Regions from separate parts of the Homo sapiens genome. Here regions 1, 2, 3, 4 and 6 are each linked to region 5. The links come from fine-mapping of genetic effects on gene expression. A gene starts in region 5. Each other region holds a variant in brackets. All regions are shown on one strand. Distances are from middle to middle. Region 1 overlaps PPFIA1 (PPFI scaffold protein A1). Region 2 overlaps PPFIA1 (PPFI scaffold protein A1). Region 3 overlaps PPFIA1 (PPFI scaffold protein A1). Region 4 has its middle 33 kb from the start of PPFIA1. Region 5 holds the start of PPFIA1 (PPFI scaffold protein A1). Region 6 overlaps PPFIA1 (PPFI scaffold protein A1).

Evidence for each region. PIP is the estimated chance that this variant, and not a neighbour inherited with it, causes the effect. A credible set is the group of variants that fine-mapping cannot tell apart.
Region 1: its variant is the best candidate, but not a certain one, in a credible set for the expression of PPFIA1 in unexposed skin (GTEx, PIP 0.79).
Region 2: its variant is the best candidate, but not a certain one, in a credible set for the expression of PPFIA1 in spleen (GTEx, PIP 0.53).
Region 3: its variant is the best candidate, but not a certain one, in a credible set for the expression of PPFIA1 in whole blood (INTERVAL, PIP 0.57).
Region 4: its variant is the best candidate, but not a certain one, in a credible set for the expression of PPFIA1 in whole blood (TOPMed, PIP 0.77).
Region 6: its variant is the best candidate, but not a certain one, in a credible set for the expression of PPFIA1 in lymphoblastoid cells (GTEx, PIP 0.60).

The regions. Positions count from the first base shown.
Region 1 is chr11:70,327,778-70,331,865 of GRCh38, forward strand. It overlaps PPFIA1 (PPFI scaffold protein A1), which reads left to right. Exons shown (of 28, transcript NM_003626.5): 8 at 2,396-2,542. Among named protein-coding and RNA genes, the nearest start is that of MIR548K, 46 kb to the left of the region's middle. RefSeq lists a silencer at 1,595-1,731. The variant A/T (reference allele first, on the strand shown) is at 1,682.
Region 2 is chr11:70,300,939-70,305,026 of GRCh38, forward strand. All of the region lies in intron 2 of PPFIA1 (PPFI scaffold protein A1), which reads left to right. LOC107984346 (a long non-coding RNA gene) reads right to left here. Exons shown (of 3, transcript XR_001748288.2): 2 at 139-227. Among named protein-coding and RNA genes, the nearest start is that of MIR548K, 19 kb to the left of the region's middle. RefSeq lists an enhancer at 1,331-1,830. The variant C/G (reference allele first, on the strand shown) is at 1,857.
Region 3 is chr11:70,352,552-70,356,639 of GRCh38, forward strand. PPFIA1 (PPFI scaffold protein A1) reads left to right here. Exons shown (of 28, transcript NM_003626.5): 17 at 1,750-1,901; 18 at 3,088-3,260; 19 at 3,610-3,703. Among named protein-coding and RNA genes, the nearest start is that of CTTN-DT, 44 kb to the right of the region's middle. The variant T/C (reference allele first, on the strand shown) is at 2,408.
Region 4 is chr11:70,235,345-70,239,432 of GRCh38, forward strand. No RefSeq gene overlaps it. Among named protein-coding and RNA genes, the nearest start is that of PPFIA1, 33 kb to the right of the region's middle. The variant T/G (reference allele first, on the strand shown) is at 2,474.
Region 5 is chr11:70,269,091-70,273,178 of GRCh38, forward strand. It overlaps PPFIA1 (PPFI scaffold protein A1), which reads left to right and starts at 1,600. Exons shown (of 28, transcript NM_003626.5): 1 at 1,600-1,824; 2 at 3,083-3,346. The coding sequence starts at 3,083. RefSeq lists silencers at 1,185-1,734, 1,775-2,204.
Region 6 is chr11:70,317,107-70,321,194 of GRCh38, forward strand. The region is part of intron 2 of PPFIA1 (PPFI scaffold protein A1); the gene reads left to right. Among named protein-coding and RNA genes, the nearest start is that of MIR548K, 35 kb to the left of the region's middle. RefSeq lists a silencer at 3,326-3,507. The variant G/C (reference allele first, on the strand shown) is at 2,011.

The sequences.
Region 1 (4,088 bases), 59 kb after region 5:
AAAAAAAGAGAGAAACTATTTGATCATGAAACAGTGAGGCTGAGTGCTTTCTCAGGTGCCCTTCCTGTCACTTTCTAACCTGCGCTTTGTCCCTTGTCAGGCGCCTCAACCGTTGAATGTCTGCTTTTCAGTTTGGTAGTTTGACGTTGAGTAATTTCATGTAGGAATTCACCACAGGAAGAACATTTGCATGTAGTATGTCACCTAAGGTTCTATTCTTTGGCTACAGCAGGAGATTATGTGGCAGAGATTAATATGCAGAGAATTTTGAAATTCTTTTAAGACCTATCACTTTTATTTTTTAATTTTTTATTTTAACTTTTAAGTTTGGGGTACACGTGTAGGTCTGTTACATAAGTAAACTTGTGTCCTGGCGGTTTGTTTTACAAATTATTTCATCACCCAGGTACCAAGCCTAGTTATTTTTCCTGATCCTCTTCTTCCTCCTATCCTCCACCCTCCACCCTTTGATAGGCCCCAGTGTGTGTTGTTCCCCTCTGTCTGTCCCTGTGTTCTCATCAGTTAGCTCCCACTTATAAGTGAGAACATGAGGTATTTTGTTTTTCTGTTTCTGTGTTTGCTAAAGATAATGGCCGCCAGCTCCATCCATGTCTCTGCAAAGGACATGATCTCATTCTGTTTTATGGCTGCATAGTATTCCATGGTGTATACGTACCACATTTTCTTTATGGAGTCTATCATTGATGGGCATTTAGGTTGATTCCTTGTCTTTGCTGTTGTGAATAGTGCTGCAGTGAACATACGTGTGCGTGTGTCTTTATAATACAACGATTTATATTCCTTTGGGTATATACCCCGTAATGGGATTTCTGGGTTGGTATTTCCATCTTTAGGTCTTTGAGGAATCTCCACACTGTCTTCCACGATGGTTGAACTAATTTACCCTCCCACCAAGAGCAGGAAAACATTCCTTTTTCTCCACAACCTCACCAGCATCTGTTACTGATTGACTTTTCCACAATAGCCATTCTGACTGGTGTGAGATGCTGTCTCATTGTGGTTTTGATTGGCATTTGTCTAATCGGTGATGTTGAGCTTTTTTCCCCTATCACTTGTAATATTTAGACTTTGCTAACTTTAGTCATTTTATAAATAGGGAACAACTTGAAAATAGTGAATTCTGGGGGTGGAGGACAGGTATTTCTCAAGCAAAAAGTTCTGGTCCTAGCCTTAAGTGTTTGAAACTGTATAGTAATCATCTTGTAGACTTCAGGTAGTTGCATCCAATTAAATTAAACTGGTACTTCTGTTTCCATTTGTCAATATGCTTGAGTCTTGTAATTGTATGAGAGTTCATCCAACCCTTATCCTAGAAAGTGAGACTTGTATCTCACTACTGTGTCCACTGAGAGAGGCCGCACCCTGTCCTGTGTGAGACCATTTGTAGCGTGAGGCAGACGTAGACTGCGTCTTCTTTGAGGACACTTTCACCTCCTTGAAAAATATTTAGATATTTGAGTGTATATATTTTTATAATATTATGTAGAAACAGGAAAGCTTGGTCAACTGAGTGGCCAGACATAGTATTAAGAGAGACAAGTCTTTGTTAATCGTATAGGTGAATATTTATGGTATTTGAGGTAGTTACATTTTCATTCACATTTGAGAAAATTGACATCTTCATCAATTTAATTTTGAGGACATTATTATTTATTTATTT[A/T]TTTTTGAGACAGGATCTCTCTCTGTTACCCAGGCTGGAGTGCAGTGGCGCCATCATAGCTCACTGCAGCCTTGAACTGCTGGACTCGAGCAATCCTCCTGTCTCAGACTCCCAAGTACCTGGGACTACAGGGGCGTGCCACCATGCGTGGCTAATTTTTGTTTCTTTAAAATGTTTTTGGCCAGGGACACTGGCTCACGCCTGTAATCCTAACACTTTGGGAGGCCAAAGGAAGGCCAAGGAGGATCTCTTGAGCCCAGGAAACTCAAGACCAGCCTGGGCGATATAGTAAGACCTCTATTTCTACAAAAAATTAAAAATTAGTTGGATATAGGAGTGTGCGCTTGTAGTCCCAGCTACTGGGAAGATTGAGGTGGAAGGATCCCTTGAGCCTGGGAAGTCAAGGCTGTGGTGAGCCTTGATTGCACCACAGCATTCCATCCTAGGTGATAGAGGGAGACTCTGACTCAAAAAACAAAATAAAATATTTTTGTAGAGACAAGGTCTTGAACTCCTTGCCTGAAGCCATCCTCCCGCCTTAGCCTCCCAAAGTGCTGTGATTATAGGAGTGAGCTGCTGTATCTGGCCTGAGGATGCTAATTTTTAATTTGATTGGAAATTTGGGATTTACTTCAGTTTTTTTCTCTCTTAAGTATCTTAATGTGTAATCGTTAATTACCTACTTTTTTGTCCCCTCTGAAATACCTAATTTAGGCCATGGCCCAAAAGGAAGATATGGAAGAGAGAATCACTACTCTTGAAAAACGCTACCTCGCTGCACAGCGTGAAGCCACATCTGTGCATGACCTCAATGATAAACTTGAAAATGAAATTGCAAATAAAGATTCTATGCATCGACAGGTAATGGATTTTATCGACCTTTGTCTGGCTTTAGTTAATTATTAATGAAGTTAAAGACCCTTTTTCTCTCACTTTCATGTTGGAAATCAAGTCCAAATATCAAGTTTTTATGACCTTAGAATATTATGTTCAAGACATGTGGGAGTTCCTTCAGTTTAGAGGTTTTGATTACGTAGGATTTGATTTAACCAATTTTGTCCTCAGTTTTTTCTTTTGTTGTAATTGAAAGTTAATCTATTGCTTGTTAGCATTTTTACCAAAGGAGCAGAGAGTGGCAAAGAACTTCAAGGCAATTGGCTATTTGTAACTAAGTGGGAGCACTATGATACATGAATAGTATGACAAATGAAGTCTTGGTCGGATGCGGTGGCTCATGCCTGTCATTCTAACACTTCGGGAGGCTGAGGTGGGAAGATCGCTTGAGCCCAGGAATGTGAGAACAGCCTGTCTCTACAGAAAATTAATAAATTAGCCGGGCATGGTGGCATGTGCCTTTAGCCCTAGCTACTCAGGAGGCTAAGGAGGGAGGATGACTTGAGCCCTGGAGTTCAAGGCTTCATTGTGCTATGATTGTGCCACTGGACTCCAGCCTGGGCCACAGAACGAGACCCCGTCTCTAAAATAAAAAATGCGGCCAGGCGCGGTGGCTCACACCTGTAATCCCAGCACTTTGGGAGGCCGAGGCAGGTGGATCATGAGGTCAGGCATTTGAGACCAGCCTGACCAACATGGTGAAACTGCGTCTCTACTAAAAATACAAAAATTAGCTGGGCTTGGTGGCGCGCATCTGTAATCCCAGCTGCTACTCAGGAGGCTGAGGCAGGAGAATCGCTTGAACCCAAGAGGCGGAGGTTGCAGTGAGCCGAGATTGTGCCACTGCACTCCAGCCTGGGTGACACAGCTAGACTCCGTCTCAAAAAAAAAAAAAAGGCAGTGAAGTCTGTAGTAAGAAATTGGGTCTCCTGTGGTTTCGTAAACCATACTTATTCTTGTAATTACGAGTATCACTGTATTCCAGCCTGGGTGACAGAGCAAGACTCTGTCTTTAAACAAACAAAAAAAAAGCTTCTTAAAAGTTATTTAGGAAAAGCAAACACTTTGACAAGAGGTGTTTTGCACATTGAAACCAAGACCAGGAAAGTGGGCATGTACTCCTGGCAGCAAGAAAACCTTACCCAGGCCGGGCACAGTGGCGCACACCTGTAATCCCACCACTTTGGGAGGCTGAGGCGGGTGGATCACTTGAGGTTAGGAGTTCAAGACCAGCCTGGCCAACATGCCGAAGTCCTGTCTCTACTAAAAATACAAAAATTAGCCAGACCTGGTGGCACATGCCTGTAATTGCAGCTACTCAGGAGGCTGAGGCAGGAGAATTGCTTGAACTCAGGAGGTGGAGGTTGCAGTGAGCCAAGATTGTGCCACTGCACTCCAGCCTGGGTGACAAAGCGAGACTATGTCTCAAAAACAAAAACAAAAACAAAAACAAAAACAAAAACCTGACCCAGAAGCAACTCCCATCACTGTAGCTCTTCCATCATGACTCTCT
Region 2 (4,088 bases), 32 kb after region 5:
GAGGTGAGGCCAGCATGATTCTCTCCATTTAAGGTCATGGGTTTACTGTGTAAACAGGCCCTTCATTTTTACTAACTGCTGCAATGGCAGTCTGTTGTTTTCTGCCCAGTCACTCCTTGTTCCCTCTCGCCTACATACCTGTTAGAAGTTTTGGGTCCTCTGCGTACCAATTTTCTGATCTTGGCCAAGATAGTTCACCTCTAAGACTGTTTTGCCATCTATAAAATCTGTAAAATAGAGATACTACTTATTACCCAATAAGTAGACTTGATGAGAACTAACATAAAGTATCTACCATGCTAGCCTGCACAAAGTAGACATTCATTTGATGTGAGGCATGTCTCTGCAAACCACTCAACACAGCCCCCAACACAGGGAAGATGGAGAGAACTCAGCTTCCCTGCGCACTTGGTTTTGGTCCTCACCATGGTATCTTCCCCTGAAGATAACATCTGCATTGGGCTGCGAGTCCCAAGCCACTTACTAGCTGAGTGACCTTTGTACCTCTCTAATCTGCCTGGGTCTGTATTCTAATTTGTAAAATAAGGTAATTATGAGTGCCTTACTGGGTTGCTGAGAGTAAAATGTGATAAAATATATGAAAGTATTTTGAAAATCATAAGGCATTAGACAAATATAGTTATTGCAGTTTACATCTTTTGAGTACCTAGCATATAGCACCTTAGAAATATTTTTTTGTTCAGGAAAGTGCTTGAATTAATAGGGGTACTTGTTCTTAAGCTTATATGTCTATTTAGTAAGCTTAATAGAACCACAGAGAGGAAATTCTTAATAAAGGACCTTCGTTTACAGTTGTGTATCTGAATCTTTGGCTCATTTTGAGATGCCTTCTTGTTAAAGTAGAGGGTGAAACCATTCATAGAGCTCTCGTCAGACTGCTTTGCCAGACGCAGTACGCAGCACATGAATGTTTCACGGGACCACCGTGCAGTAATGTGAGCTGTCAGTATTACTCAGTTAATTCCATATGCAGTGACCGTGTGAACATGGCTGCTTTGCTCGGTTCCTTGTTGTGGCTTGGGGTTTTAACAGTGATGGGCACAGCCTTTCAGCTGGGAAGCATGGAGTCTAAGTGGACTCACGAAAGTGCAGTGAAGCGGTGGCTGTGCAGTGGCACAGTAGACAGAATCCAGCATAGCACAGGAAAGGAGCTGGCCAGGTTGCCCTCAGGGGCCAGAAGAGCCTTCCCAGAGGAGGGGGAATGGTTGAACTGAGGGTTGTGAGGTCCCATTCAGCATCAAGGGGATCGTGGGGATGGCAGCAGTGGGAAGAGAGGCTCGATTGGAGGAGGGAGCAGCCAGCAGCTTCGTAGGGTGGGGCAGCCACACTGGTCCTTAGAGGGGATGCTTCCCCAGGGAGCAGTGGGAGAAGGGTGGCTGACCAGGAAACAGGAAAGGCATGGAGGGCTGTGAGCTCACAGGAAGGTGGCTATCCAGGGCTGGAGTGCATTCTCTGAGAGCCTCGTGGGAGGATGGAGATGGGCAGTGGAGTCTGGGCGGGCAGAGGGAGCACACTGCGGCAACAGAGCTGTGAGCTGGAGACAGGGCACTTGAGACGCTTCCTTGGTTGACAATAAACCCTTTCTTTTTATCATTTCTGCCAGTCAGTTATGTCGTTTTCTGGTAGGCAATGTCATGCTTGTTAAGAAAACTGCATGAGACAGAATCAAAAGCTTTAACAAGTCCATTTATATTTATACATTCAGCCTTAGCTGTATGGTCTCGAACACTAGAGTGTTGTGTTTTCTTGACTCATCAGCAGAATATCAGGAATGTAAATGTAAATGTAGCCGTAGATACTCTCAACACCATTTTTTTTTTTTTTTTTTTTAAAGA[C/G]ATGTGATCCCAGTATGTTGCCCAGGCTGATCTTGAACTCCTGGGCTCAAGCAATCCTCCTGCCTCGGTGTCCCAAGTAGCTGGGACTACATTTGTGCCACCACACCACAGGAAGAAATCCCTAATAAGGCGTCTTTCAGTTACAGCTTTATACGTAGACCTTTGATTCCTCTGAGATACCTGTTTATTAAATTAGCAAACTTCCCAATTTTGACCTGACATCTCTAAGACCATGTCACAGGCTGAAAGGAAAGTGGCAGCCCAGTTTTCCTTGGTCTTGCGTATGCTGAGGCTTGAGTTTTCAGTTGTGGTCTCCCATGTCTGTTAAAACACTGGCCAGCGTTCTCAGTTGGCGTACCTTGCATTCTTTCAGCATTGCACTGTGGTTCTAGACCCCGGTCTGACGCAGTGTCGGGCAGCCCTACCGCGTGTTCGAGTGCTGCTCTTCGGTAGCACTTGGTCTAGCAGAATATACCGAGTCCTGTCTGCAGAACCTTGACAAGTCTTGGAAAGCGGTCTCAGAATGCTTACTCACACACATCTGGGACATTTCCAATTTAATAAATGTCACGGAAAAAGTTTGGCAGATTGTTTAATTACATGTAAAAGCTGCTTGTGGCTTTCCTTGCTAATATGAGCCTGAAAAATGCTAACTACAATTGTTATGAAATCAGGGAAAGCTTGTGCATACCCTAAGGTTTTTCTGGAGAATTGCTTACCTGTGAACTCTAAAGCCATTCCTGAGCGGTGCCAAGTGTGATATTGTAGCATAAGAAGAGATGTACATTTGGTCTGTGCCCTGGCCCCTGGCACAGAGCTTCTCAAGCTCCTGGACTCTCTGGAGTACTGAGAGTGTCCTTATGTGCTGATCAGGTGACTGGTGACTGGCTACCCCCTAGGTAGCCTCAAGGTAAGGACTGGTAACTGGAGGCCTGGCACGGTGGCTCATGCCTATAATCCCAGCACTCTGGGAGGCTGAGGCAGGCGGATCACTTGAGGTCAGGAGTTCAGGAGCAGCCTGGCCAACATGGTGAAACCCCGTCTCTACTAAAAATACAAAAATTAGCCAGGCGTGGTGGTGTGTGCCTGTAATCCCAGCTACTCCGGAGGCTGAGGCAGGAGAATCACTTGAACCCAGGAGGCGGAGGTTGCGGTGAGCTGAGATCGCGCCACTGCACTCCAGCCTGGGAGATAGCGAGACTTCGTCTCAAAAAAAGAAAAGACAAAAAAAAAAGAAAAAAGGAGTGGTCACTGGAAAGACCTAGGCAGGATTAGAGGGTTAGGACTTTGAGCTCCATGCCCTAGCTTCTGTTTGAAGGTTGGGTTATCCAGTGGCCAATGATGTTAATCAGTCATGCCTATGTAACAAAGCCTAAAACCCTAAAAGGATAGGATTCTGGGGGCTCTGGGTTCCTGAACATGTAGCAGTTTCTGGAGGGTAGTGCCCTCAGAGGGCATGGAAGCTCTGCACCCCTTCCCACATACTTTGCCCTGTGCATCTCTCCTTCTGCTGTTCACCTGGGTCCTTTGTGATAGCCTTTAAAAAAAAAAAAATTAGAGATGGGATCTCACTATGTTGCCCAGGCTGGTCTCAAATTCCTGGCCTTAAGCAGCCCTCCCGTCTTAGCCTCCCAAAGTGCTGGGATTACAGATGTGAGCCAACATGCTCAGCCTGTGATATCCTTTATAATACATGGGTAAATGTAAGTAAAGTGCTCCTCTGAGTTCTGTGAGCTGCTGCAGCAAATTTAATTGAACCCGAGAAGGGTATCATGGGAACCCTGATTCATAGCTGGTTGGTCAGAAGCACAGGTCACAACCTGGGACTTGTACTTGGCACCTGCAAAGGACTGGGGGAGTGGTCTTGTGGGACTGAGCCTTACCCTGTGGGATTGATACACTCTCCAGCTGGACAGTGCAGAATTGCATGGAATTAGAGGCACACAGCTGCAGAACTGCATGGAATTAGAGGCACACAGCGGCAGAATTGCTTTACACCCCCGACATCTGGTGTCAGCAGTGGTGGTGTGTGTGGAAGTAGGGAAAACACTTTGATTTTTCCTATCCTCATTAGCCAGGGAGGTCAGCACCCCCTCATTTTACTAGAGAAGTGGGGATGTTAATCAAGTGCCCTGCCCTTCTCAAGTTCAAGGTGCCTGAGACACTGGCACCCCTCCTGTCACCTGCATATATTTACTTCATGTTTTGATTGTCCCATCACTGCCAGCATCA
Region 3 (4,088 bases), 83 kb after region 5:
TTAAACCAGGGGTGCGTGCAGAGTGCCAGGCCTTGTCTACAAGAGACTGTCGCCTTCCTTCTCTGTGTCAGTGGTGTTGGTGTAGACCAAGAGGACTTCCCTGCTTTCTAGTAGGCCTGAGCTGGGATGGAGGCAGAAGTCTGGCACGTGACAGCACTACAGCGTGTGGAGGGGTGCGGAGGGCGGCGTGTGGAGGGGTGGGAGGGCGGCGTGTGGAGGTGTCGGAGGGCGGCGTGTGGAGGGGTGGGAGGGCGGCGTGTGGAGGTGTCGGAGGGCGGCGTGTGGAGGGATGAGGAGGGCAGCGCTGGCCAGGCTCACGGGGCTTTCCCCAGACCCTGTTACCAGCTTATAGCTGGCTGCGTGTCAGCTTTCTCTGTACTCTGTTTTTGGTTTTGTTTTTTTAAAACAGATGATTGTTTTAACCTGAATTTTGAAACTTAAGCTTCATATTGATAATTTCTAGCTTTGAAAGCCTTTCATTGTTTTGTGATTGCAACTGGAAATTAGGAAAGGATGCAGGATTCATTTGCATTTTAACTGTTAGTTGAGATTCTGTCCTAAATGAGCACAGCTCCATTTTGCATTGAATGCACTTGGTCCTCCCTGAGCCACAGTGGGGCTACAGTAGGATTGATACACTTTACACAATCCCATTTAAGAAGCAGAAATTCAAACTGAGCCCAGTGGTACGTGCTTGTAGTCCCACCTACTTTGGAGGCCGAGGCAAGAATCAGTTGAGCACAGGAGTTTGAGGCTGCACCGCACCATGATCACACCTGCAAATAGCCACTGCAGTCCAGCCTGGAATCACAGCAAGAACCTGGCTCTTAAAATTTATTTTTAATAAAATAAAGTTCACTGTTCAAGTCTTGCTGTTTATAGTAATGCTTGCTGAACATGTTTTATGAAATCCAGTCCCACTCAAAACCAGAAAACACAAATGTATAAGCAGGATCTGCCTAGACCCTGCAGGGGTGAGTCTGTTCACTGTTGTTAACCACCATCCTGCTCCCTCAGCACATGGGCGTATTCACGTTCCACTGCAAAAACAAAAAAACCCTGGGAGTCTGACAAAGATCATCTTGTAATGATAAGCCTAGAAGTATTTTCTTTTAAGCTATATTGAACAAAAATGTTTAAACTGCATAAAAGTGCTTGAATTTATAGTGTCCATCCAAACATTGAGAAATATGAGCCATACACATGTGTATGGGGGTCATGGGCTGTTCCTTGTTTATTTTTACCCCGTTCAGACAAAAAAGGTATTTGACAATTTTGCCCAAGTGGTTTCTTGCCCTCTCTAGTGTTTCTTTTGAAGGACATCAGGAGATAAACGTATTTGTTACTGGCTCTTCATTAGTGCAAGTTAATGCTGTCTCACATTTGTAACGATGTGGTTTATCGGTGTTGTTCAGATCTCTGCTGCCCCTTCAGAGACTGTCCTCATGATGTGCCTAGGATTCCGGGGAGGGCAGAACCTTGGGCTGCATGGAGGAGGCTGAGGATGAGGGGCATACCTGTGTCCTGTTGGGCCCCAGCGCACGCTCGTGGGGAGGCAGACCAGGAGTCTGACAACTCTGTGGTGCTGTGCTGCGTGGCCCTTCAGAATGGTGCCAGACTGAAACAAGACTTTCTGTGCTGGCAGAAAGCACAGCAAATCGATTTTCAAAGAAGTTTATGGCTATAATTTAAGGCCTGAGTTTTTCACAGTCTGCTGTTAACTAACTTTGCACTTCTCTCACCCCTCAGTTGCCACCTTCCAGAGAAGAGGTACGAGATGACAAGACAACCATAAAGTGTGAAACCTCCCCGCCTTCCTCCCCGAGAGCCCTTCGGTTAGACCGGCTGCACAAAGGGGCGCTGCACACCGTCAGCCACGAGGACATCAGGGACATAAGGAAGTAAGGAGCCTGCAGCAGCCCCATGCAGAGCGCACCTGTCTTTTCGTTTCTGGTGTTGAGAAATCGACAAATCTTTCCTTGAGTAAAACAGTGATTTTGTAGAATTACCCATTAATTCAGTTGAGTGTATTTACATGTTACACTTAGAATGCTTACCACTGCTCTGGGCTATAGTGAAATCCAGCAGAAGATGCATATCTGTTTGGGCAAGCTTAGTTTGGAAAGAAAGGAGTTAAATGATATCAGCAAGTTTTGGAAAAACTTCATGTCTTCAGAGTCTATAAATTGACTACTTTCTATTCTTGATGGAGAGTTTGGCAAGCAGATGACAGGCTTGGTATTGGAACCGCTCTCTAGGACAACCCGTGCCTTTCTTGTGCCTTTTGTAAACTGTGGAGAGTTCCAAGTTGTACTTACCAATTTAGTGAGTGTCCCCTCTCAGGAAACCAATCAGCTGTTTTGTTACTAGTATGCTATCTATGCTATCTTTTTTTTTCTTTTTGAGA[T/C]AGAGTCTTGCTCTGTTGCCCAGGCTGGAGTACAGTGGCATGATCTTGGCTCACCACAACCTTCACCTCCCGAGTAGCTGGAACTACAGGCGCACACCACCATGCCCGGCTAATTTTTGTATTTTTAGTAAAGATGGGGTTTCACCATGCTGGCCAGGCTGGTCTCGAACTCCTGAGCTCATAATCTGCCCGCCTCGGCCTCCCAAAATGCTGGGATTACAGGCGTGAGCCACCGCGCCCGGCCCCTCTTTTTTTAAATTCCATTGGATTTCGGTTCTGTGCCAGGCAATATGCAGGGGAGGCATGTATATTAATTTTTGCAGTAACCCCTCAGGCAGTTAACATTGCCACGGTTCTCAGCTGAGTAGAGTAATGCTCAGGGCGGTTGTGGGAGCTGCTGGAGGGGAAGCAGGCAGACCATTGGGCTTTGGCACCTGATGGCGCGGAGTCAGGGCCTCCCCTGAAGGGGAGGGGAGCTCCATGTCAGAGAGAGTCTCAGCTGCCCAGAATGGGTCTCCGCGCTGGCCTCGCCGGGAGTCTGCCTTTATCATGCATGATGCACTTGGTGAGGAAGATGTGTGTGAAAGAGACTGGAAGTGCTTGTAGGGAAGTTTGCGACTGTTAATATGTGAAGTATCCTACAAGGGCACATAGTAAAGATCCGTTTTCTTTCCTCGAAGCTCCACAGGCTCCCAGGATGGTCCCGTGAGCAACCCCAGCAGTAGCAACAGTAGCCAGGACTCGCTCCACAAAGCCCCAAAGAAGAAAGGCATTAAGTCCTCCATTGGCCGCTTGTTTGGCAAGAAAGAAAAGGGCCGACCTGGACAAACTGGCAAAGAAGCATTAGGACAAGGTTGGTTGGTTTTCCGCACCCTTCTCAGCACCCAGGGGTCGGGGAGGAAGGCACTGCCTTCGGTGCCATCAGTTCCCACGCGGTGCTCCAGGAGCCGTGTGCTCTCCAGGGAGCAGCAGCTGTGAAGGCATGGGAGCTAGAGAGCAGCAGTTTATGCTCACTTGCCACTCAGGTACAACACATTTCCTGTCTTGAGCATTTCCGTCTTGGGCATTTGGTTGTCTAGTCAGAAACTTAGCCTTAAGAAATGATTTAAATCTGAACCTGCAAATATTCATCTGCCTATTTATGAAAACATAGAGCTTTGTCATGCTGATTTTTACTTCTGGGCTGTTCTGCTTCCTCACAGCTGGTGTTTCCGAGACGGATAACTCATCTCAGGATGCCTTGGGACTTAGCAAATTGGGGGGACAGGCTGAAAAAAATCGTAAACTTCAAAAAAAGTAAGCTTTGTGTTATTTCTTCATCTCATTGAATGGTTTTCAGTTGTGCCTAAGCTCTAACTAGTGTTTGTTAATTATAATAGCTAGCTATGTATATATACATTATATTCTGAAAGCTTTACCTACAGCCTTAATTAAGCCGTACTTTCTGGAAGATTTAGTGTTTGTGAAATTTCGAAGAAACTCACACTGGTATCCCTATCATCTTGGAAAGCTGTCCAACCAGGAGATAGGGTGGGTGAGAGTTGGACTCAGCTGCCTGAGCACTGGAGTCGGCCCTGGCGCCTGCCCAGGTTCACTTTGTGACGTTGAGGAAGTGGCCTAGCATCTCTGTGCTTCAGTTTTCTCATCTGTAAAGTGGGGATCCTAGTAGTACATACCTTGT
Region 4 (4,088 bases), 34 kb before region 5:
TCCCGACTGCTTTCATATGAAACGACTTCAAGGGGCTTTCTTACTGGTATAGACAAAGTCACTGACATGCATTCGTGCATAAGTTCAGGTGCAAAGTGGAGCCCAGACCTTGAAGTCACAGACTGGGGTTAGGTCTAGACTCTCCTATGTATTTGCCAGGTGATCTTGGACAAATGTACTCCAAAGGTACACTCTGAGCCTCATTTTCCTCACCTGAGAAATGGACTGATGTTCCAATGATCTGTTTCTGCATGACAAATCACCCCAAAACTGAGTGGCTTAAAACCCCAGTAAGTCTCTTGTGTCTCAGGGCTTCTGTGGGTCAGGAATTCAGGAAGGGCCCCACTGGGTGGTTCTGCCTGACGCTCCGGTATGGGCTTCCTCCCAACATGACAGCCTGAGGACAGCTAAATTGCCCACTTGGTGGCCTGTGAGTCACAAACTCACCCAGGTTCAAAATCAGGAGAATTAGACTCCAGACTTTTTGTTTTTGTTTTTGAGACAGGGTCTCGCTCTGTTGTCCAGGCTGGACTGCAGTGCTGCCATCTCGGCTTGTTGCAACCTCCACCTCCCCACATCTGGCTAATTTTTGTATTTTTTGGTAGAGACAGGGTTTCACTATGTTGTCCAGGCTGTAAACTCTAGACTTTGATGGGGCAGTGGAAAGGTGGAAAATTGGAAAGGTGGAAAAGTGGAAGAGTATATGGGACAGGAGACACTGCTGCAATAACCTTTTGGGAGATACAGTCTGCCACAGATGATAGCTCTCACGTCCACTGGGAGGGTTACGGATGTAAAGCAACTGGAATATCTTTTTTTTTTTTTTAAGAGATGGAGTCTTACTCTGTCACCCAGCCTGGAGTGCAGTGGCGCAATCCTGGCTCACTGCAGCCTCGATCTCCTGGGGTCAAGCAATCCTCCTTCCTCAGCCTCCCAGATAGCTGGGACTACAGGCTTGAGCCACCACATCTGGTGCCTGGAATATCTTACCTGCCCATAAGGGATCTCTGTGGTGACCACAGCTGTCATTGCAGGTTGGCTGTCCACATCTGTCCCTTCTCTTCCTATCCCTCCTCGGTGCAAGTCGCACCCTGTTTATGGCCCATAGGAATCAGCTCACAGGAGACAGTTGGACAAGCCAAGAATCCATTGGTCCACTTGGAGTGGCCAACCATTAGGCCAACCATTAGGCAGAGGGCAGTGAATGGGGCACTGAGCCCAGGCCAGGTGAATGGGGGGAGGCACCTGGGACCAGCAGAGGATGTTACATGGGAGCTGGGCATTCAGAAGAGGCCTCTCCATCAAGCCGAGTGAGCCCGTGGGGCCACGCGCCCCCACCTCCTCCAGGAGAGAGGGATCCATCATCAGCATGGGGCCTGGGAACCCTAGCAGCCTATTCCAGATCCTGGCAGAGACCGACCACTTGATTTCATCCCCCTTCCAAAGTAGTGGCACTTAATTAAGAATTTCTAGGTCAGGCATGGTGGCTCACATCCACCATCCCAGCACTCTGGGAAGCTGAGACAGAAGAAAAACTGGAGGCCGGGAGTTCAAGACCAGCCTGGGCAACATAGTGAGACCTGCCCCTGTCTCTACCAAAAAAAAAAAAAAAAAAAAAAAAAAATTTTTTTTTCATGAGCAGAATGTGGTGGCGTGCACCTGTGGTCCCAGTTACTCAGAGGCTGAGGCGAGAGGATCACCTGAGCCCAGAAGTTGGAGGCTGCAGTAAGTTATGATTGTGCCACTCACTGCACTCCAGCTGGGTGACAGAGCACTACTCTGTCTCTAAAAAATAAAATAAAATAAAATAAAATAAAATAAAATAATAAATAAATAATTTGGGAAAAGACTTACTACCTAAGAAATCTTTCTCCTGCACCCCCAGGCCCCTGGTTTACTTTCACATCTCAGGAAATAAGAATCATAAAAAAGTCACTTTCCTTGACTGGAGGGAAGAAGGGAAGGCAGGCTGGACCCCAGGCCTCTGTCTCCTCCCTCCGTCTCAGCCATCTGGACAGAAGGGGCCTTTATTTAACCGGATGCTTCTCCATAGTCCTGTCACCCAGAGCTGCAAACTTGTCCTGTGGTCTCTTGTGGCCTCTGACATGTGAATCAGGATCAGCAGTTCTGAAGCTGATGGTCCCCTTCTTTAAAATGGTGGTAAACACATGTAACATACACATGTAACATACAAATTACCATCTTAACCTTTTCAAGTGTATAGTTCAAGGGCCTTAAGAACATTCACAGCTGGGCACAGTGGCTCACGCCTGTAATCCCAGCACTTTGGGAGGCCGAGGTGGGCAGATCACCTGAGGTTAGGAGTTCAAGACCAGCCTGGCTAACATGGTGAAACCCCGTTTCTACTGAAAACACAAAAATTAGCCGGACATGGTGAAGTGCGTCTGTAATCCCAGCTACTCGGGAGGCTGAGGCAGGAGAATCACTTGAACCCAGTGGGTGGAGGTTGTAC[T/G]GAGCCAAGATGGTGCCACTGCACTCCAGTCTGGGCGATAGAGTGAGACTCCCTCTCAAAAAAAAAAAAAGAAAAAAAGAAAGAAAAGAAAAGAAAAGAAAAAAAAAAAGGAACATTCACACATTCACACTGTGGCACAACCATCACCACCATCCATCTCCAGAATTCTGTTCCATCTTCCCAAACGGAAACTCTGTCTGCATTAAACACTAACTCCCCATTCCCCTCTCCCTGAAACTCGCGACAATCAGCAGCTTCTTTCTGTCTCTGTGAATCTGACTACGCTAGACACCTGGTGTAGGCTGAATCTTACATTACAGTCAGACTCCCATGTCCATGTGTCCCAAATCCATGGATTCAAGCACCCACAGATTACAAATATTCTCAGGCCAGCCGCGGTGGTATACACCTATAATCCCAGCATTTTCGGAGGCTGAGGTGGGAGGGTCACTTGACCCCATCTCTACAAAAAAAAAAAAAAAAATTATTATTATTATTATTGAGACGGAATCTTGCTCTGTCTCCCAGGCTGGAGTGCAGTGGTGCGATCTTGGCTCACTGCAACCTCTGTCTTCTGGGTTCAAGCAATTATCCTGCTTCAGCCTCCTGAATAGCTGGAATTACAGGCACCTGGCCACCACACCCAGCTAATTTTTGATTTTTAGTAGAGATGGGGCTTCACCGTGTTGCCCAGGCTGGCCTTGAACTCCTGACCTCAAGTAATCCACCTGCCTCAGTCTCCCAAAGTGCTGGGATTACAGGCAGGTGCATCCATAGTCCTAGCTACTTGGGAGGCTGAGGTTGGAGGATTGCTTGAGCCTGAGAGATCAAGACTGTAGTGAGCCATGATCGTAGCACTGCACTCCAGCCTGGGTGACAGACCACATCCCTAGCTAAAAAAAAAAAAAAAAAAGAAAAGAAAAAGAAAAAAAATGCACAAAAACTTTTTACAAAGTTCCAAAAAGCAAAACTTGAATTTATCATTGCATTAAATCCATGCAAATGAAGTGATGCGTAGACATTTTATTAGGTGTTATGAGTCACCTAGAGATGATTTAGAGTCTACAGGGGGATATATGTAGGTTATATGCAAACACTACTCCATTTTATATAAGTGACTTGAGCATCTGAGGATTTTGGTATCCACAGGAGGTCCTGGAATCAACCCTCTGTGGACATGGAGTTGTATTTGTCTCTTTGTGTCTGGCTTATTTCACTGAGCATGATATTCTCAAGGTTCATCCATGGAGTAGAATGTGTCAGAATTCTGATGCCCCTTTTTATAACCCACATCTTGTACAGTTCTCTTTACTCTCTCTCTCTTTTTTTTTTGGAGACAGGGTCTTACTCTGTCTTGCAGGTTGGAGGTGTTCAGTGGCACAGTCTTGGCTCACTGCAGCCTTGACCTACCAGGCTCAGGTGATCCTCCCACCTCAGCCTCCCGAGTAGCTGGGACTACAGGTGTGTGCCACCAAGCCCACCTAATTTTTGTATTTTTTGTAGAGATGGGCATCTCACTATGTTGTCCAGGCAAGTCTCAAACTCCTGGCCTCAAGTGATCCTCCTGCCTCAGCCTCCCAAAGTGCTAGGGATTACAGATGTGAGCCAGCACGTC
Region 5 (4,088 bases):
GGGATTACAGGCTTGAGCCACCGCACCCGGCCTCACCTGGCCATTTTTACACTTTTAAAATAGCAAGAAACTAGGGGCAAAAAGTACATATTCATATCTATGTGTAGTCAGTCAATAAATATTTATTGAATGAACGAATAAATTAATGGAAGGTGTTCCAGATCCTGGTAGGCGAGAGTCAGTCGGAGGGAGTGCTTGTTCTTGGTGCACTCACAATGGAGAATCAAGGAATTCACCTTGGACGGGCTCATTTCTCCCTCTCCTAGGCCCCGTGCAGCCTCTTCTCAGACTTACTAGTTCTGAGGGGCTCCTGGCTGCCTCACACCAACAGCAGTGGCCAGTGGACACTGGCGATGGTGTCCTGACATTTTGGTTTGTGAAGAGTTTGTGCTCCGAGTCAAATCCTGGGAGGAGTGGGGAGGGCATCCGCTTTAATTAATTAGAGGTGTCTCTATTCATCTCCGTATCTGCAACATCTAGCACAAGACTTGGCCCATAGTAGATGTTTAAAAATTCTTGCTGAGGCCGGGCGCAGTGGCTCACGCCTGTAATCCCAACACTTTGGGAGGCTGAGGCGGGCAGACCACCTGAGGTCAGGAGTTCGAGACCAGCTCGACCAACATGTAGAAATCCCGTCTCTACTAAAAATACAAAATTATCTGGACTTGGTGGCGTGCGCCTGTAATCCCAGCTACACGGGAGGTTGAGGCAGGAGAATCACTTGAACCCGGGAGGCAGAGGTTGCAGTGAGCCGAGATGGCGCCATTGCACTCCAGCCTGGGTGACAAGAGTGAAACAACGTCTGGAAAAAAAAAAAAACTTGCGGAAAAGATGAAATGACCAAGACTCGCGCAGTGCTGCCCGTCAGGCTCTCAACTAGTCGCTCTTCACATCTGATTCATGTCTTAAAGCAGCCTCGCAGGTAGGTCTGCATCATTTTCCCATCCTACATCGGAGGCGCTGAAGCCCAGGCGGGTTTCCCGAGTCGCCCGGGCCCACGCTGCAGAGTGAAAGCCACAGCGGCAAAGCCTGCACTCTGGACGCTGCGCCGGGACGTCCCCAGGTGCGGCAGGCAGCGCTCCGTAAGTGGGTCCTGGCGGGAACTCCGTCCTTCTGAACCCAGATCAGGCCCAGGGAGACCGTAGGGGCGCCGCGGCGGGCGGGGTCTGGGTCCTCGGTGGTGACTGAAGCCTCGGTTCGCTCTTCTGCAAGGTGCGAATCCAGAGCCTCCAGCTCGGGAGGGACCTGACGTGCCGGACGCGTCCAGCTCAGAACTCGAGGCGCGGTAGACACTCAGCAAAGGCCTCCGGCGTCCCTGCAGCCGTGGGGGGAAACTGGGGACGCCCGGAGGAAGACGCTGACCCGGCGAGCACCTGAGCGCCCACCTGTGGCTCATCCCGGAGACCGCCCCCTCCCCCGCGACCCGGGCGGGGCCTGGGGGGCGTGGCTCCCGTCTCGCTCAGCCAATCAGTGCCCCGGGGCCGCCTCCCGCCCCCTCCTGAGGAGACAGCGCTTGCGTACTCGGGCCAAGGTGCTCCTCGGGCCCCGCCCCCGGGGCGGTGCTGACGCTCGCGCCGACGCGCTCGACGTCGGGCACGTAGACGCCGGCGCCGCGCAGCCGGGCCCGCTCCTCCTCCGCTCCGCCAGTGTCCGGCCGCGGGCCGGCCTTAGTGACTGGGGCGGCGGGCCCCGGGGCCGCGGCGTGGGGCGGGCAGGCGGACGCCGGCCGCGGGCTGCTTTCGTCGGCTCCCAAGCTCTCCCGGAGCGAGCAGCCGCCCGCGAGCCGCCGCGGAGCCTCCTCGCCCGCTCCCGCCGGCGAGCAAGGTAAGGGAGCGGGACACTGAGGCAGGCTCGGGGCCCAGGCGTCACCGGCGCGTCCCGGTCTCCGCGGCGGCCACGCAGCCGATTAGATGTCTCCGCGGGGAAGGGTGCGCTCCGGGACGGGTGGGGGCGAGGCCGCGGCGCCGGGTCGCGCTGGGAGAGCTCCGGCGGGACACCCGCGCCCCAAGGGACGGCTCCGGGGACTGCGCGCTGCCCCTCCCCGAGCCCCGCGCCCCGTGACCCGGGCGCTGGGGCGAGGGGCGGGGACCTGTGGCCGCTGAAAGCCCTGGCCCGAGCGGGCTCCGTTGTCAACGGTCCTCACCCCCCGGGGTTCGGGGCTTCCGCCGCACCTGATACAGGAGGGGAGGAGTGCGGCTCGAGCAGGCTGGAGGTCACCATCCCCATCAGGTGCGCCGTCTGGGGCATCCCCCTCTCAGGGGTCCACCGCGCCCCCAGTACTGCCCGAAAGGCTCAGAAGCGACTTCCCCTTTCCCTGGCGCTGTCTTTATATCCCAGACACTTAATAGACTCTCGTAATCTCACCTTTCACTTTTCCCTCTTTCCTAGCCGCCCCCGGCTGTATCGACCTGCTATATTTCCATTGTGGATTTTTTTTTTCGGTTGTAAACTTACGTAAGTTAGGTTGACCAACCGTTGCAGCCATTGGAAAACACTTCTACCAGCGTTTAACGAATCCGGTTCCTTTTAGTGCTCACCAAATCCAGCCCAAGAATTCAGGGAGCCGTCAGTTCTTCCCGGGAGCTGACTGCACACATTCCTGCAAGATGCCTGATGGATTTTGTACTTGTCAGTTTTGCTGGTTGTATGCTCCTTCTGTGCTTTTCCTGAAAAATGATTGGGTGACATGTGTTTTGACTTTCTCCCCCCCTACCCCCCCACCCTCCCCACCCCACTGGGAAGTAAAAAAAATAGGTAACAGAAGCACACTTGTTTTCAGCAAAAACAAGTACAGCTTTGCAAACAGACTACCCCAGGGCTTGCCCTTTTTTGTGAGGGTAGTCCTTTGGGATCTTGACCCCTTCCCTGGATTTTTGTCTGTGTTAATGTCTTCATGTTGTGTATTTTTGCACTTAATATTTGCCCTGTGTATGTTTTCCCAGCTTATTTACACACAAAGCATAACAGATCTGAGCATAATGAGACTGCCCATCTTTTTAGCTACAGATACCTGTAAAGTTGCATATTTGTGGGAACCTGTATTCTGAGCTTAATTACTGTAGCCTGGGTCTTTCATTTCAAGATGATGTGCGAGGTGATGCCGACCATCAGCGAAGCAGAAGGCCCCCCTGGAGGAGGTGGAGGCCATGGTTCCGGCTCCCCTTCACAGCCAGATGCAGATTCACATTTTGAACAGTTGATGGTCTCCATGCTAGAAGAAAGGGACCGCCTTCTTGATACACTGAGAGAGACTCAAGAAACGCTGGCCTTAACCCAGGGGAAGTTACACGAGGTTGGTCATGAAAGAGATTCCTTGCAGAGACAGCTCAACACGGCACTTCCACAGGTATGAGTGCTTTTAACCTGAAACTATAGATTTTTCTCCACTAAATGTTTTTTTATTAGTGTCATCTTTTGTTAATGTTTCAGATGAGTATTTTCCGTAACGATTTGTGAAATGATAGTTTCTGGTGTTTGTAAGTCAAATACAAAGTTCCTAGGGATTAAACTTCTTAGGGAGAACAAATCGTTGTACTCTAAAGTCATGTGAAAATACCTCATTATTTTCATTCCTATCTTTGGGAACTGCCTAGGTTCAGGAAGTTCTCCAGAGTTTTTGAAAAAGGGCTCTGAAGCAACCAATCTATTTGGTGCCTCCATTCTGTTGTCTTAAGCCTTTTCTGGCTAAACTTGTACTTCCCATGGATTATCTCATGTATTTCTAATTTCCTAATGTAATTTAATAGACAAATAGGATTGATTTCACGGAAAAAAAAAATTATTTTGATAGCCCACCTTTATCAGAACATCTAGGTTTTGTAAGTCACATTTGTTTTAGGGGATAGAAGACTCGAGATTGATTCCTTAGGAACTTTTTCCTTGGCAGATGAGAATTTTAAAGCTTAGGCCGGGTGTGGTGGCTCATGCCTGTAATCCCAGCACTCTGGGAGGCTGAGGCAGGCGGATCACCTGAGGTCAGGAGTTTGAGACCAGCCTGGCCAACATGGCAAAACCCTGTCTCTACCAAAAATACAAAAATTAGCAGAGCGTGGTAGCGCGCATCTGTAGTCCCAGCTACTCAGAGGCTG
Region 6 (4,088 bases), 48 kb after region 5:
GTCACTTTAAACTAGTGATATATTTGACTTACAGTATTTTTAAACTTAACATTTTTTTTTCCTAAATAGGAAAAAATGTACACTGACAATTAGATTCCTCTGATGTAATAAGGTAGATCATTTATTGCACATATTTGGGGTTCCTACTATTTTTTTTTCTGCAATAATAATGCAAGCAGTACATACAGGAACATGCTTTTGGGATCTTAAACTTTGGAATGTCCCGTCTAATGTTTACCTAAACTGCTAAGTTTAAATTTGCTTTGATATATTTTCAGTTGTTGGATTCTTCTGAGCAGAGAGAAAGGTTTTTTTCTTTAAGTGGAGTAATCATGAACGTCTATGAATTCGTTTTCTACTGTAGCCACAGCAGTATACCATAGAATAGTTTTGGTAGTTGAATATATTGGGAATACTTACATTTAACCAAAATAATAGAAATTCCCTGTATTCTCTTTGGTTTTAGAGGCAAATCTAAAATCTGGAAGTTGAAATGAGGATAGTTTGGGGTTCTTAGGAAAACCTTAGGGAAACTGTATGAAACAGAAAAAGGCTTGCTGCTGGTGCCGGAAGAGTGACAGCGTGCTGGGGGGTTTGTGCATGAGTGAAGGTGGGGCCAGGTGGGAGCCTTCCTGTTTCTGGATGGATGGTCTGTGCAGTAGTAACTCAGGCTGCATGGTTCTTGCATCATCCGAGTTGTGAAGTGCTCTTCCTCCACTTCCAGGTCCTCCTTGTTATGAGGACTTAGGCTTTGACTAGGGCTTTCATTTAAAGGTGACGAAATTTGTTCATAATAGACTTTTAAAAATAAAACACCGATATTCCACCTTCCTGGGACCGACAGTCCTAGGACCCTGCCACCTTGTCAGGATTCTTCATCTCCCCTACTGGTCCATTATTACCCTCCCAGCCCTGCCAGCCTTTCAGCTCCCTTGCCTCTTCCACTTCATTGCGCTTACCTGGCAGAAACCACCCCATTCAGTCCGTTCTCCATGCCCATTCACCTCCACTGACCCGCAGAGGCCCTAAGTGCCGCCAGCATCTCTGTTAGTGCATCCCGCCCTCTTTCTTCTACGCGGCATGCTGCCTACCCGTCCTCTCTTCTAGATGCCATTTCATACCTTCTCCTCTCCTATCTTCCCCAAATGTAAATGCAGAATGATGACATTGTGTTTGTTTTTTTCTGTGTGAAATTGGAAGAAATCAGAAAAGAAGTTCCACCAACTCCCACCACACCTCTGGATCTGCACCCCGCACCCCATGTCGTCTGCCCTCTTTCCCTTTACTGCGGGTGATCTGTGTGCCCCAGAAAAGGTCAGCCTCTCCTCTTAGTCACTTGACTTACCTGCTTTCAGCTGGACTCATCAGTTCCCACCTCCCCACTGGATTCTTGCCCTCACTATGCAAATGTCTGTCTCATCCTGCAAAGGTCTTTCTTGACCTCATATCTTCTCCAGCCACTGCACTGTTTTTCTTCCCCTTTACTGCAGAGTTCCTTGGAAGAATTTTCTGTACTCCCTGCTTTACTTCCACTCTTCCCATTCTCTTTGAACTCAGTCCAGTGAGGGTTTTGACCCGCCACTGCAGCATGCTGCAGATGTCACAGTCACCATCGATCTCCATTCCAGCAAGTCCGACCAACAAGCATCAGTCAGCTCATTTGATCCACTGGCATCAGTGAATACAGTTGATCATCCTCCTGGAAATAAGGATCTTCAAAGATCTTGAAGGGTTTCCTGGTTTTCCTCCTCATCCCTGATTGCTCCTAGCCTCTTTTGCTGATGCCCCTCAATGAGACTGTTGGGGGCTTGATCCCCATCTCTTCTCACCCTCCACCCAGGGCCTCACTGACTTGCATGGAACAAAATGATTATCCCCATTTGCAGTCTCTACAACACACCCAAAAACTCCAGACTGTGAATTGCGCTCAACTGTCTAATAACCATTTCAAATTTAGCACGTCCAAACCCAAACTTTTACACCTTCCCTTCAAAACATACTCTTCCCGTA[G/C]TCACTCCCTTCTCAGGAACCAATGACTCCATCCTTCACTTGCTTCCGCCAGAATCCTTGGAGGCATCCTCGTGCCTTTCTTTCTCTGCGATCTTTGACCTGTCAGGAGCTCCTGCTGGCTCTGTGGTGAACAGGTCCAGAGTCCCTGCTTCTCACCACCTGCGGTGAGCCCACCCTGGTCTGCTGCATAATTGCAGTCATTTCTTACCCATCTCCCCACTTCTGGCCTCACCTTCTCACAGGCTGTTCTGAAGACAGCATCCAGGGGAATCCTTTGAAAACGGGTGAAGGGCACGGCTCATGAGAATCCTTACTTAGGCTCTTTCTTTTCTCTAATATTGATTTTAGTTCAGATCCTCATTAATCCCTGGGATTATTGCAGTGAACTCACTGCTGATTTCCCAGTCTTAATCTCCTCCAGCCCGGGGGTAGCAGTGCTTCCAGCGACCTTTCATTGCTCCAACACACCCATTTTGAGCACATCCCTTATGCTAATGACTGACTGAGACTTTACCAGTTTTGCCCCATTTTCTGTTCAGAGTCCTCAAAGCCTGTAGATAAGGTGATTTCTATAGCCTTCAACATTAAATCCAGGTTTCATGCTGTGTGCTGTTGTTCTCTGAATGGCTGCCCACTTATGACCTCACCGGCTTCCTCCATACACGCTGCCCATGCCCCAGCCCTGCTGAAGCCCTTGCTTATCAGATACCTTCTGCTTTTGTGAAAGAGGCTCTCACTGGCTATACAGCATGTTCAGAATTCAGCTCAATTCAAGTGCTGTGTCCTTCAGCAAACCTTCCGAGAAGCACTCCCACTTCCCATCATGGATGGCTTCAACTCAGCTCCCGCAGTATCCTGGTCACCTCTCACCCAGAGCACGTACTGCTCTGAGGTTCCTGCCAGCTCGTCTGTCTGTTCTTTAAAGCATCCTGAGGAGTGGACAGGCCCTGTTTCTGTGTTGCTGCAGCGGCCAGCATAGACGAGATATGCACTATTTCTTGAAAGAACTGTAACGTCCGATCGAGGTGGAAGCACTCACTTGTGCTTTGATGCATCTCCCCTCCAAACACAACAGTGAAAAGGTACAATTTAAGTAGAGAAACAAACCAAAAAGCATAGCCAGCCCACCAAGCAAGAGAAATACCCTTCAGTACACAAACAGACTAGAAACCTAGCATGGTAAGCCTGAATTGACTGGATTTCACTGGCCACTGAGCCGCAGGCTCCAAGCAGGCAGTGTCAGTAGGAAAGTGGGTTCTTACAGGGGTAAGGGTAACAGGGACTAAAGTGTTCAGTGGAGTTAGAACTAGATGTAGCTACTTTTTTTTTTTTTTTTTTTTGAGACGCTCTCGTCACCCGGCCTGGAGTGCAGTGGTGTGATCACGGCTCAACCTGCTGGGCTCAAGCAGTCCTCCTGTCTCAGCTTCCTGAGTAGCCGGGTCTATGCTACTGGGTCTACGCATGGTGTGTGCCACCATGCCCGGCTAATTTTTTATGTTTTGTAGAGATGGGGTCTCACTATGTTGCCCAAGCTGGTCTTGAACTCCTGGGCTCAAGCAGTCCTCCAACCTTGGCCTCCCAAAGTGCTGAGATTACAGGCAAGAGCCACCATGCCTGGCCTTAGATGGTTTTTGGAGCTGGAGTTAGATAAGGTTTCCCCATCTAAGGCAATTCTCTGCTATACAGATTGGGGCTCTACTGGCAGTTGTGGTCCTAGGGAGGTAGAATGCAAGGCCTGGGATGAGCCATGCTATTCCATGGTTCTCTACCAGGGTCTGCACTGTTGGTGACATAACCACGCAACAGAATCCTGCATCACCATGGAAAACCTAGTTCTGGACGGAGGCCTTGGAAGGCTTGGAGGGCAACAACCACAGAACACTAGTGCTATGGGCTGAATACTTTTGTGTTCCCTGCTCTGCCAAAGTCATATGCTCAAATCCCACTCCCTGGTTTCACTGTATTAGAAGGTAGAGCCCTTGGGAGGGGATTAGGTCATGAGGGTGGACTCCTTGTGAATGGAATAATGTGCTTAGAAGAGACCCCATAGAGATCCCTGGTCCCTTCCATCATGTGAG